Linked DNA regions of Homo sapiens: region 2 is linked to region 1. The links come from fine-mapping of genetic effects on gene expression. A gene starts in region 1. The other region holds a variant in brackets. All regions are shown on one strand. Distances are between the middles of the regions.

Evidence for each region. PIP is the estimated chance that this variant, and not a neighbour inherited with it, causes the effect. A credible set is the group of variants that fine-mapping cannot tell apart.
Region 2: its variant is the best candidate, but not a certain one, in a credible set for the expression of ZNF207 in whole blood (TOPMed, PIP 0.74).

Annotation. Positions count from the first base shown.
Region 1 is chr17:32,348,896-32,351,809 of GRCh38, reverse strand. ZNF207 (zinc finger protein 207) reads right to left here and starts at 1,653. Exons shown (of 12, transcript NM_001098507.2): 1 at 1,484-1,653; 2 at 1-24. The coding sequence starts at 1,524. MIR632 (microRNA 632) reads right to left here and starts at 1,701; the gene lies at 1,608-1,701. It also overlaps a transcript of C17orf75 not described here. RefSeq lists enhancers at 1,564-1,913, 2,084-2,203.
Region 2 is chr17:32,513,755-32,516,668 of GRCh38, reverse strand. All of the region lies in intron 21 of MYO1D (myosin ID), which reads left to right. The region is part of intron 1 of LOC105371734 (a long non-coding RNA gene); the gene reads left to right. Among named protein-coding and RNA genes, the nearest start is that of CDK5R1, 28 kb to the right of the region's middle. RefSeq lists enhancers at 136-185, 256-425, 1,306-1,355. The variant C/G (reference allele first, on the strand shown) is at 1,591.

The DNA of each region.
Region 1 (2,914 bases):
TCATCAAAATCTCTATTACAATACCTGATCAATACTGTTAAGGCACAAAGACAGCCTAATGATGACACTGCCTATAATAAAAACATATGGATAACATTACAATATGGGAACAGCTAAAACCAAAATGGTACTGTATAGAAACTCTGCTTTTTATATTTATTACACAATTAGGGACTACACTTGCCATGTTATTTCAGTATTTTCAATTTCCTAGAAGGCCAGCTCTCTTCACCACCCCAAAAAACACATCTCAATAATCAGCAATATACTTTGTCAAATTCCTGTGTTTAACAGAGATGTCGGTGAAACTTTTGTTATAAATATTTCAACATTTACAAATGCACACTGAGGACAGGAAAGAGTTCAGTTAAGAAATCCCTAAGGTTCTGTCAAGACAATTACTTCACTAGATATGAAGACGATAGCAATAACTGGATTAGGAATTTAGCAATATTTAGAATCTAAGAGTAACTATATGGTGAACAATAATCACATAATTTCGAATGAACAATCCATAAAGTTGTTTCCAATTCCGTATGAATTTATGTTGCCAAGCAATGTATTTAAATTCACAGATCAATAAAATCAATAAAGCAGAATTCTTACATCAATAAAACAGAATTCTTACCTCACTACTCAGATTTTCCTAAAATCACATTACAAAATTCGTAACCGTATTTAAGCTATTTTTAAAACTGTTACATAAACGCAGTACTGTAACAAGCCGCCTTTACGTACAAAACAGTAAATAAAATCAATTTTAATGTAAAGAATATTAACGCTTCCAGAAAAAGCATTAATACCACACTGTAGTAAGAGTTTTCCTAATAAGATAGGCACTTTTTAGTCCTACAAAGTTGGGTAACAGAAACTCCGCCCTGTGAGAACGCTTCCTGAAGATTAAGGCGCCTCTGGGTGAGACACGGAAGCTAGTTCTCCTCCCGCCCCGAAAAGAAAAAAAAAAAAAAAAAGGTTCGAAACCAGGGTTGACTAACTTGGTTCTTTACTAAACCGCCAATTCGAAAAAATAAACACAAAACACACATAAAGTAAATAAAAACAGAAAAAGTGGGTGACAGACTGTGAAGCTGTCCCCAACCCTCCATGAAAGTAATAAGCCTATCGCACTCGAAGAAAAGTCCCTTGTTGAATCGTCACCAAAACAACGGAAGGTGGCTGAATAGTCCCTAGGGGACACTGTCCCTGGCGGAGGGGTCCAGGCCGCCTCCCGGAGTCCAAAATTCGCACCGAACAAGATCCTCCTGAGTCACAGAGTCACACGACCCACAACTGCAAAAGCCTGTCGACCTCGGAACCCCATTTTCCTAGAAGCCTTCCCAAGTCCAATCCCAGCCACCAGGCCACCCACGCAGACGCCTAAATACAAACGCTCCACGCCGTAAGCCAAATCCAGGCCTCCTAGTCCCAGGCCCCAACAACCGGCACCCCAACGCGACCTCGACTTCAAACCGACAAAGGATACCAGCACCACGGCTTCAGCTGCTTCTTCTTCTTGCGACCCATAACTGTGTTCTACCGGCAAAGTAAAAGGGAGGAGAAAAGAAGCAGGAGAAACGAGGCCAAAAATCCCTCACTTTCCCAACCCAACGGCTACCACCACGTCCCACAGGAAGCAGACACAAAATGGCCGACGGCCTCGTTCCCCGCTCCGCCTCCCGTCAAGCACTGCGGTAGGAGGCGGAGCCAAGAAGGGGAGGGTCACATGACGCAGACCTCCGCCCTGAGTGGGTGGGACTAAGAGGCGCGAAGAGGTGGCAGCCATCTTGTCCGTTTCAGAGTTTTTCGCTTTCGCTGGCTGTGCTTGCGGAGCACTTTGGGTTTCATTTGTAAAGGAGCCGGAGCCCCAGGTACGCTAAGGGGCATGCGAATGGAAAACAGAAAACAAAAAAACGGAAAAGATTGCCAGTGCAGTTAGGGCCGATCACAAATAAAGATAGAGACAGCGCCCAATTTTAATTTTGTTTCAATTGAACAGTAAATGTTGATTATGTGCCTATTAAATGCTAAACCAAATAAGTTAGTCTCTGCTTTGTAACTCGCAGATTGGTGACAGACGAGTACACAATGCAGAGTTCTCAGTGCGGCGTTGAGGGAAATGCGAAGTGCTGTAGGACCTCAGAGAGCGGGAGTCCTAGGGCGGCTGTAGTGGTAGTGGTCGTTGGGTTGTCAAGTAAAGTTTTGTTTTTCTTTGTTTTGTTTTATTTTTCTGAGACCAAGTCTCGCTCTGTCTCCCAGGCTGGAGTGCAGCGGCGCGATCTCTGCTCACTGCAACCTCCGTCTCCCGGGTTCAAGCGATTCTCCTACCTCAGCCTCCCGAGTAGCTGGGACTGCAGGCCCGCGCCACCAAGCCCGGCTAATTTTTGTATTTTTAGTAGAATGGGGTTTCACCATGTTAGCGAGGCTGGTCTCGAACTCCTGGGCTCAAGTGATCCGCCCGCCTCGGCCTCCCAAAGTGCTGGATTGCAGGCTTGAGCCGCTGCGCCCGACATAAGAAAGGTTTCTTGAGGAGTCAACGGGAGCAAGCAAGGTGAAGGAAAGGGTATCTCCGTAAGGGAGCAAAGAGTTTAAGTCTTTGAGGCTGGGCACGTGAAAAACTAATCGTGGTAAGACTGGAGCTGATAGCCGGGCGCGGTTGCTCACGCCAGTAATCCCAACACTATGGGCCAAGGCCGAGGCAGGCGGATCACTTGAGGTCAGGAGTTCGAGACCAGCCTGGCCGACATGGTGAAACCCTGTCTCTACTAAAAATACAAAAATTAGCCAGGCGTAGTGGCAGGCGCCTGTAACCTCAGCTACTCGGGAGAATGAGGCAGGAGAATCACTTGGACCTGGGAGGTGAAGGTTGCAGTGAGCCGAGATCTCGCCATTGCATTCCAGCCTGGGTGACAGAGTG
Region 2 (2,914 bases), 160 kb before region 1:
GAAGTGTGTCTGCGCTCAAGGGCAAGCCAAATTTGGCAAGAAGCCATGTGGAGACACTTCACATTTAAATCTTCTACGAGACTGGGGGCAGGGAGACAAAGGTTCCTCTGGGGCTCTCAAATCCAATTGGTGATTCCAGAGAAAATGGGGACTCTTCATGGCAGGCAGGAAAAGGGGAAATGTGGCCTGAGAGAACCCACACTTTCCCAGCCAGCAAGCTCCAGCCTGGATCAAAACAACCCATTTCTGGGAACTTAAAATAAAAAATAAGAGAGCAGTCAAATGAACTTGAGACCCCCACAGGGCCTTTCATGTGTCTACCAGCAGCAGCATGGTGAGTGGTTTCTGTGATGTGGGATTCCAGGGCAAGAGGCACTGGACCATGGCCACTGGTTCATCTCTCATTATAGGCCAGAAATAGATGCCCCATCCCAGGAAAAGGGAAATAAGGCTGCATGGAATGTTTCATCTGTTGGAATATTGTTCTGCTCTGCCTGACAAGATTACTGAGTTCTCAGTTCTGTAGCAATGGCATTGAGTAAGAGTCTGAAAATTGATGCATTATGTACTCGCTTAAAATAGCAAATGCAGAATAGAAAAAGCAAAGCTGCTAGGAAGTGTGCAGAACATATTGATAGAAAGGCCTGCTTTGCCTCTGTCATTACCAGCATGAAAGTGTGTATCGGAGCAGGGGGTAGACTTTCCATCAGAAGCATCTGAGCAGTGGAGGCTCTTTTACCGCAATGAGACAAGGGTACATTTTTTTAGCTGACATAAGTGAGTGTAAATCTTTCTGTTCTCAAACAGGTGGTAGAAAGTGGGCAATTTGTTTCTTTTCATCTCCGTGTTCTGGGCTTGGTTTATGAGATAGCTGCCTCTGTTTTAACTTCTTTGAATTCCCCTCAGAACAAAAATCCCCCACCACCTGCTACTTAATCAAATATTCTTCACTGTGGATTATAGTTGCCTGGATGGGAGCAAGGTTCAGTGACAGTGTGATGGAAAATATCCAAAAAGAACTATGTCGTCAGCCCCAAGAAGAAAGCATTATCCTTTGTCCTTAAAAATGGGATTTAAGGCTGGGCACAGTGGCTCACACCTGTAATACCAACACTTTGGGAGGCTGAGGCAAGAGGATTGCTTGAGCCTAGGAGTTTAAGACAAGCCTGGGCAACAAAGCGAGACCCTGTCTCTACAAAAAATCAAAAAATTAGCCGGGCATGGAGGCACATACTTGTGGTCCCAGCTATATAGGAGGCTAAGGCAGGAAGATGACTTCACCAGGAGGTGAAGACTGCAGTAGGCCATGGCTGGGGGACTGGGCGAGACTCTATGTCAAAGAAAAGACAGGAGGAGGGAATTTAAAAATACTGAATAACAAGTTAAAAAGTCCTTCTGGAATCGACAAGCCTTTTTGCCCTGGAAGGTGGCATAGTTGCTTCTTAGGGGAATATCCGTGGTCAGGGACAGAGGCCTTGAGAGGCTGGGCAAAGGTCCTTTCAGCCCTGGTTTCATTCGTCTAACCAGCATTCCACTCTAACAGCCTCCTCCATTCAAGCGCTTACTCCATTAACAAACATTAATGGGGCA[C/G]TTACTCGATGCCAGGCATGGCACTAGCCACTGTGCATATATTTTCTCCTTTAACTCTCTAGAAAAAAGAACATTATCCCTGTTCATTATCCCAGTTAAGGAAACTGAGTTTAAAAGGATTAAGTAACTGCCCAGAGCCAGACAGCTAGATTTGAACCCTAAACTATTGATTCCAAACCTTGTATTCTTCCCACTATGCCTCCATTGTCTCCTCTTTTGATTAAGCAACATTCCTAGAAATACAGGGAACCTGGAAGGCCCCTGTCCGCATCTCTTTCCTGCTGCTGCTGCCAGCTGGAATGTCTGACTCCCGGATGTGTTATAACTAAACTTCTAAAAGAACGATCAGTATCTGAGAAAAATCCCTTTTTTCAAGCTCAGCAAGCAATGTGATGTACTAACAGCCCCTCATCGTGATTCAAACTAACTATAATTTACCCATTGTTGTTGGACATTGACTAGTTTCCAAATTTTTATAGGTCACCACGATTTTGGAGAGTGTGACCTGCTATTTGCAAAGCAAGGATTAGACTTTCCCTCCTTTCCCCTTTATAATTTGCACTATTGCTTCTAAGAATAGTGTTTTTTAAAGTTTGGACATTTTCAGATAAAGATTGCTGGAAATAATAGTGTGAAAAATATTTTTTAAATAAAAGACTAACATTGAATAAAAAGATAGAAATCTTGGGCATCCGCGGTGGCTTACACCTGTAATCCCAGCACTTCGGGAAGCCAGTGTGGAAGGATGGCTTGAGCCCAGGAGTTCAAGACCAGCCAGGGCAACATAGGAAAACCCTGTCTCTACGATTTTTTTTTTTTTTTTTTTTTTTTTTTTTTTTGAGACAAAGTCTTGCTCTGTCGCCCAGGCTGGAGTGCAGTGGCACAATCTCAGCTGACTACAATCTCTACCTGTGGATTTAAGCAGCTCCCTGCCTCAGCCTCCCGAGTAACTAGGATTACAGGCACATGCCACTATGCCTGGCCAATTTTTGTATTTTTAGTAGAGACGGAGTTTCACTATCTTGGCCAGGCTGGTCTTGAACTCCTGACCTCATGATCTACCCGCCTCAACCTCCCAAAGTGCTGGGATTACAGACATGAGCCACCATGCCCGGCCAAAAAAATTTTTTTAATTAGCATGGTGGTGTATGCCTGTAGTCCCAGAAGGCTGCAGTGAGCCATGCTCACACCCTATACTCCAGCCTGGGCAACAGAGCAAGATCCTGTCTACAAAAAAAAAAAAAAGAAAGAAAGAAATCTTAAGGCGTTTGGGGTGGGTGAGAATGACAGCCAGGTTGCTGAGACACAGCTGTGCGGGCAGGCT